Linked DNA regions of Homo sapiens. Changing the gene in region 1 together with any one later gene gives a genetic interaction. Each region holds a gene or a part of one and is shown in the gene's direction. Other genes may lie near its edges.

Evidence for each region.
Region 2: changes in ACVRL1 (region 1) and CIT together harm fitness more than expected from each alone (negative genetic interaction), as found in Homo sapiens cells (one large-scale study listed by BioGRID).

The regions. Positions count from the first base shown.
Region 1 is NC_000012.12:51,920,683-51,924,174, forward strand, and holds the end of ACVRL1 (activin receptor type-1-like isoform 1 precursor), read left to right. Parts: intron 1-76; coding exon 77-211; 3' UTR 212-2,679; downstream 2,680-3,492. UniProt on the Homo sapiens protein: Type I receptor for TGF-beta family ligands BMP9/GDF2 and BMP10 and important regulator of normal blood vessel development. On ligand binding, forms a receptor complex consisting of two type II and two type I transmembrane serine/threonine kinases.
Region 2 is NC_000012.12:119,867,115-119,870,927, reverse strand, and holds part of CIT (citron Rho-interacting kinase), read left to right. Parts: intron 1-1,726; coding exon 1,727-1,868; intron 1,869-3,813. UniProt on the Homo sapiens protein: Plays a role in cytokinesis. Required for KIF14 localization to the central spindle and midbody. Putative RHO/RAC effector that binds to the GTP-bound forms of RHO and RAC1. It probably binds p21 with a tighter specificity in vivo.

The DNA.
Region 1 (3,492 bases):
TCTCTCCCGACCCCCTCCTCTTCTCTGCATCTCTCTCTCTGCCTCCTCTCCTCTGCACCTCTCTCCCAACCCCCAGGTCCTCTCAGGCCTAGCTCAGATGATGCGGGAGTGCTGGTACCCAAACCCCTCTGCCCGACTCACCGCGCTGCGGATCAAGAAGACACTACAAAAAATTAGCAACAGTCCAGAGAAGCCTAAAGTGATTCAATAGCCCAGGAGCACCTGATTCCTTTCTGCCTGCAGGGGGCTGGGGGGGTGGGGGGCAGTGGATGGTGCCCTATCTGGGTAGAGGTAGTGTGAGTGTGGTGTGTGCTGGGGATGGGCAGCTGCGCCTGCCTGCTCGGCCCCCAGCCCACCCAGCCAAAAATACAGCTGGGCTGAAACCTGATCCCCTGCTGTCTGGCCTGCTCAAAGCGGCAGGCTCCCTGACGCCTGGCTCTCTCCCCACCCCTATGGCCAGCATGGTGCACCCCCTACCACTCCCGGGACAGGATGCAAAAGAGGCTCCAGAGTCAGAGTGCCAAGCCAGGGAATCCCAGTCCCAGACTCAGAGCCCGGGCCTGCACTTTGCCCCCTGCCCTTGATCAACCCCACTGCCCCACCAGAGCTGCCAGGGTGGCACAGGGCCCTGTCCAGCCCCTGGCACACACTTCCCTGCCAGGCCTCAGCCTCTAGCATAAGCTCCAGAGAGCCAGGGCCCATCAGTTTCTCTCTGTGGATTTGTATCTCAGCTCCATGATGCCTTGGGCTTTCTGTCTCCTCAACAAGAGTGCAGCTTGCTGAATGTCAGCTGCCTGAGAGAGCTGGGGCCTGACTTACTAGGGCATTAAATCCTAAGAGGTCCTACTGAGGTGTGGCAGGATCACAGGCCAGTGGAAAAAGGGCAGGTCAGATGGGCAAGGCCCAGGACTTTCAGATTAACTGAGAGGATATCGAGGCCAAGCATGGCAGGGGGAAGGTCAGTGGGTGTCAAGAGACCCAGGTCTGACCCCGGATGTTTGCTCCATGTGACAAAAGCAGGCCTGTCTCAGGACCTTTTCTTTTCTTTTTTCCTTCTTTTTTTTTTTGACACGGAGTTTCGCTCTTGTTGTCCAGGCTAGAGTGCAATGGCATGATCCCAGCTCACCGCAACGTCTACCTCCCAGGTTCAAATCATTCTCTTGCCTCAGACTCCCGAGTAGCTGGGATTACAGGCACATGCCACCATGCCTGGCTAATTTTGTATATTTAGTAGAAACAGGGTTTCACCATGCTGGCCATGCTGGTCTCGAACTCCTGACCTCAGGTGTTCCACCTACCTCAGCCTCCCAAAGTGCTGGGGTTACAGGTGTGAGCCATCGCGCCTGGCCAGGACCTTTGTTTCTTATCTACATATTGGAAGATTTGGTCCTGATGTCCTTTGAGGCTTCTTTAGCTCTAGTTCTCTGACACTTCAGCCTATATCACAGCTAACTTCTTCAGTCTCATCTATTCCTTATGCTCCAGCCCCTGGCAATTTGCCTCAAGATGGGGGTTTGAAAATAACTTTACCTGACTCAAGGAGTGTCTGGAGCACCTCCTAGTCTAAGTCTGCAAGCTCCAGTTCTTGCCTAAAACCATGCCAGTGGCCACCCTTGGGCTCAGACAGCTCTGGGCCTTTTGACCACAAGCCAGCCCCTCGCCCTCTCTGTGGCATAGTCTTCTCTGCCCCAGGACTGCAGGGCGGCTTCCTCCAAGGCTTCCAAGGCTCAAAAGAAATTTGGCTCCATCCAAGAAGGCTCCAGCTCCCCTACTGGCCCCTGGCTCAGGCCCACACCCCTGGCCAGGCCCAGAGAGTGTGTCTCAGGAGAATTCAATGGCTCTAGAGAGACACACAGAAAGTTTGGCATTTGGAAATTTCAAGGATGTATGTATGCTCACGTATGGAGCAGGTTGTCCTGGTCCCTGGGTGCAGGGAAGTGGGCTGCAGGGAAGTGGATTGGAGGGGAGCTTGAGGAATATAAGGAGCGGGGGTGGAGACTCAGGCTATGGACAAGGACAGCCCCAAGGTTGGGAAGACCTGGCCTTAGTCGTCCTCAGCCTAGGGGCAGGGCAGTGAAGAAAGCTCTCCCCGCTCCTGCTGTAATGACCCAGAGTAGCCTCCCCAGGCCGGCATCTTATGTGTGTCTTCCACCATCCTCATGGTGGCACTTTTCTAGGCCTGTCTCCCAGCATTGTGCAAGGCTCGGAAGAGAACCAGGAAGTGAAACTGGGTGAAAACAGAAAGCTCAATGGATGGGCTAGGTTCCCAGATCATTAGGGCAGAGTTTGCACGTCCTCTGGTCACTGGAATCCACCCAGCCCACGAATCATCTCCCTCTTGAAGGATTTTATTTCTACTGGGTTTTGGAACAAACTCCTGCTGAGACCCCACAGCCAGAAACTGAAAGCAGCAGCTCCCCAAAGCCTGGAAAATCCCTAAGAGAAGGCCTGGGGCAGGAAGTGGAGTGACAGGGGACAGGTAGAGAGAAGGGGGCCCAATGGCCAGGGAGTGAAGGAGGTGGCGTTGCTGAGAGCAGTCTGCACATGCTTCTGTCTGAGTGCAGGAAGGTGTTCCAGGGTCGAAATTACACTTCTCGTACCTGGAGACGCTGTTTGTGGGAGCACTGGGCTCATGCCTGGCACACAATAGGTCTGCAATAAACCATGGTTAAATCCTGAGCTCCGGAGTCTTCCCAGGCCGATGCCTCTGCAGTGGCCCGTCGCAGAGGTCCAGATAAAACCAGAGGGATCCGGGGAGAAGAGGGTCCCAGGATACACGCCCAGCTTTGCCCTTAGACAGGTCACAGTTTCCTCACGCCCCTGCTCAGACCCCCGCGGGGGCCCAAATCTCAGTTCCTACCCCAGATTGGGAGCAGCCTAGTCGCCGCACCTGCCACGTCGCCCTCTGCTGGCCGAGGGCTGCCCAGCGGCCGCCTCCCATCCCCACACAGGGACCGCGGGGCCTTTCCCGGCAGGGTGGGGCAGCCTTCCCCGCACCCGGGGGCCAACGTCTGTGTGCTCACTGACTTGCTGTTCTGCAGGGACTGTCCCCCTAATACCACACCTAGCGAAGAGCGTTCTGCTTCCGAACCGGCAGCTTGGACCCTCCCTCCTCAATTCCTTGTTCTCACTTCCCTTCTCAAATGGGGTCCCCATCTTGCCAGGAGTCAGTCCCCATTCCCAGCATGGGAAGATCCCCTTCCCTGGGGACCTACCTTGTCCTGGGATCAGAAGGCACTTCACACACACATCCCATTCTCACACCCGGAAATTCGGGGCGGGGACATGCTGTGGGGGAGGCAGATACTAAAAGAAGCTGAGAGGGTCCTGGCCCATGGGACTGCCCAGCCTAGAAAATCTGTGCCTTCGTGTTAGACGCCCTCTTAGGGAAACATAGGAAGGGTACACCTTACACCACAGATGACCTTGTGGTCCCTTGCACCCCCAAGGCGGCCTCATGCCTGGAACCTCCTACCCTGGGTTCATGGATCC
Region 2 (3,813 bases), about 68 Mb from region 1:
AGGCTGGTCTCGAACTTCTGACCTCGCGATCCGCCTGCCTCGGCCTCCCAAAGTGTTGGAATTACAGGTGTGAGCCACTGCACCTGGCTGACTCGTAACTTTTTTTGTAAGTAATAAATATTTTAGGCTTTGTGGGTCCTGTAGTCTCTGTTGCAACCACTCAACTTGGCCATGGTAGCACAAAAGCAGCTAAAGACAATATGTAAATGATGGGTGTAGCTGTGTTCCAGTAAAACTTATAAAAAGTCCGTGGGCTGGATTTGGTCCAAGGGCTACAGATTGCACACCCCTGGTCTAGCCCAAGCATCTGTGCATGGTGGCTGGCTTCCCAAAAGTGGAAGCTGCTAAGCTGCCTTTTTTTTTTTTTTTTTTTTTTTTGAGAGGGAGTCTCACTGTGTTGCCTAGGCTGGAGTGCGGTGGTGTGATCTCGGCTCACTGCAACCTCCATCTCCCGGGTGCAGGCAATTCTCATGCCTCAACCTCCCAGGTAGCTGGGATTACGGGTGCCTACCACCACGCCTGGCTAATTTTTGTATTTTGGTAGAGACAGGGTTTCACCATGTTGGCCAGGCTGGTCTCAAACTCCTGACCTCAAGTGATCCACCCGTCTTGGCCTCCCAAAGTGCTGGGATTACAGATGTGAGCCACCGTGTCTGGCCGCTTGACAAGCTTCTTAAAGGCACTGCCCTGAACTGGCACAGTGTCACTTGTGTCACATTCTTTTGGTTGAAGAGAGTCTCAGAGATGGCACAGATTCAAAGGCAGGAGAAATAGACTCCAGCGCTTAAAGTAAGGAGTAGCATGTGCCTACAGAATTGGAGGAACTGTTGGAGGCCATCTTTGAAGAGAGACCACCACTATCCATGGCTTGGCACGTGGGAATCACTGCTCTATACCAGGGTTGCAGACTCATGTCTTTGGGGGCCAGGCAGTGAGTATAAATGAGTCAAGTGGGCCAGTTGGAAGATGGAGTCAGACCTGCAGTGAACTCCCAAACACATCTGCTACCGGGAGGGGCAGCATTACTCAGCTCCAGCTCAGCGTCATCAGGCAGGAAGGCGAGGCAGTGTTGCCGGATGTGCCAGTGTTTCAAAAGAAGCCAGAGACTCCATTTTTATTTTTTTGTATGGAATCTCCTGATTTTGAAATATTGGCAGATAATTCAAATTATCTTAAACACTACAGGCCAAACAAAACATATCTGTGGGCTAGAGACAGTCTGCCAGTTTGTAACTATTTCTCCAGATCATGAGTAAATTTGGCTTTACGATGGTCACTCAGTTCTTATTACTCTAGGTTGTTCAAATGAATTAAAAAAGCTGAAATTATATGAATAAACCCCTGGGCACACATGAAAGAAGTGAAAAACCCATTGTTTCCTATTGTAGAAACATGGAAGCATGTCAGAGCCAGAGGATCCAGAGGAAATATTCTCACTAGCCTCAGACCCTCAGGAGTGAGGGAGCTTTTCTTGTTAATGGCCACGCTTGTGCAGTTTTCCTTCCCAGGTGCTGGTGAAAGAAACCCACAGTCTTGGAATCATGGAAGTGATACCATAATGACTGTCAGTTGACGTTGCTTTAAAGAATGAAGCCACAGAATTGTGCTGTTAGCATGTCGTGAGCAGTTAGTTGAGTTGGTGGCTTGTAATTTACTCTGTGTGGATGTTATTGATCAAAGCTTTTCATTATTGACAGTGTCTCCATCTGCTGTTTGCTGTTTTTAGGGGAAACCACCCTTTATGACTCAACAGCAGATGTCTCCTCTTTCCCGAGAAGGGATATTAGATGCCCTCTTTGTTCTCTTTGAAGAATGCAGTCAGCCTGCTCTGATGAAGATTAAGCACGTGAGCAACTTTGTCCGGAAGTGTAAGTTTGGGGAACTTTTTCTTGAAAACTGTCCTGAGAGAGAAAAACTAGAAAGATGCTTGAGGCAGAATGAGTTACTGGTTGATAGTAGTCGGTAAGAACTCTGGTTCTATATAAGACAGATCCAGGTTCAAATTCAGGCTGCACCTCTTATAGCTGGGAGACCAGGTAAGTTGGGCTTCTTGGTTGCAAGCGACAAACTTAATTCAAAGACTGAATTTAGGCCAGGTGCAATGGCTCATACCTATAATCTCAGCCCTTTGGGAAGCTGAGGTGGGTGAATCGCTTGAGCCCAGGAGTTCAAGACCAGCTTGGGCAACATGGTGAAACCCCATCTCTACAAAAAATACAAAAATTAGCTGGGTATGGTGGCTTGCACCCGTGGTCCCAGCTGCTGAGGAGGCTGAGGTGGGAGGATCACTGGAGCCCGGGAGGTTGAGGCTCAATGAGCTGTGATTGTGCCATTGCACTCCAGTCTGGGTGACAGAGTGAGACCCTGTGTGAATAAAAGAGTGAATTTATTGGCTCATGAAACTGAGAAATCCAGGAATGAGTTAAGTTTTAGCTTTAGGCATAGCTAGTTCCAGAGACCTCAATAATATCCCGTGGCCCTGTCCTTATACTCACTCAGGGCTGACTTTCTATTAGGCAGAGTAGGCACGGTGCTTAGGATCTGTGATATTTAATTTTAATGAATTTAATTACTTTTAATTAACTGAATTAAATTTTAATTTGTTTTAAAATTATAGGAAAAATGAATATAATAATGTATAATGATTCTGGATTACATTCATCTTTATACTAATGTAGTCATAAAATATAATTTTTGTTTTTTTTGGAGACAGAGTCTTGCCCTATTACCCAGGCTGGATTGCAGTGGTATATCATGGCTCACTGCAGTTTCAACCTTCTAGGCTCAAGCAATCCTTCCACCCCAGTGGCTGGGACTACAGGCTCACACTACCACGCCCAGCTAATTTTTGCTTTTTTCTCTGTAGAGATAGGGTCTTACTATGTTACCCAGGCTGGTTTCAAACTCCAGGCTTGAAGCAGTCTTCCTGCCTCAGCCTCCCAAAGCTTTGGGATTACAGGTGTGAGCCACCATGCCTGGCCCCATAAAATATAATTTTTGAATTCTTTTTTGTTTTTAATGGAGGAAGGGGCTGAGGAAGGCAAAAGTACCTAGGGCCTATGAAGTCATATATTGGCCTTGCCTTCACCCTGTTTCTGACTTTGCTTGACTTCCATGTGATGAGGCAGTTGGCTGTTAGTGTCCCAGTTTCATACTCTTACATTAGTGTTTTTCAACCAGTGGGTGATTTGACGTTTTCGGTTGTCAGAGCTAGTTGGGGGTGGTGGTGTGTGAGTTTGGGGGGAAGGGTCCTACTGTCAGTTAATGGGTGAGGCCAGAGATGCCACCAAACACCTTACAGTGCACAAAGCAGCCCCCATAACACAGAATTATGTAGCCCACAATGCCAACAGTGCTGAATTTGAGAAACCCCACCTTGTACAACATTGCTGTGCAACCAACCACCCTAAATATTACTGACTTAAAACAATAGTCACTGTGGCTGGGCGCGGTGGCTCATGCGTGTAAGCCCAGCGCTTTGGGAGGCTGAGGCGGCGGATCACTTGAGGTCAGGAGTTCCAGACCAGCCTGGCCAACATGGTGAAACCTTGTCTCTACTAAAAATACAAGAATTAGCTGAATGTGGCAGCGGGCGCCTGTAATCCCAGCCATTTGGGAGGCAGAGGCAGGAGAATCGCTTGAACCTGGGAGGTGGAGGTTGCAGTGAGCCAAGATCTCACCATTGCACTCCAGCTTGGGCAATGAGTGAGACTCTGTCTTAAAAAAAAAAAAAAGTTATTGTATTACCTCTTGTGTGTGTAGGTTAATTGGACTCAGCTGGGGATTCCTCTGCTCTGTATTACATTGGCCAGG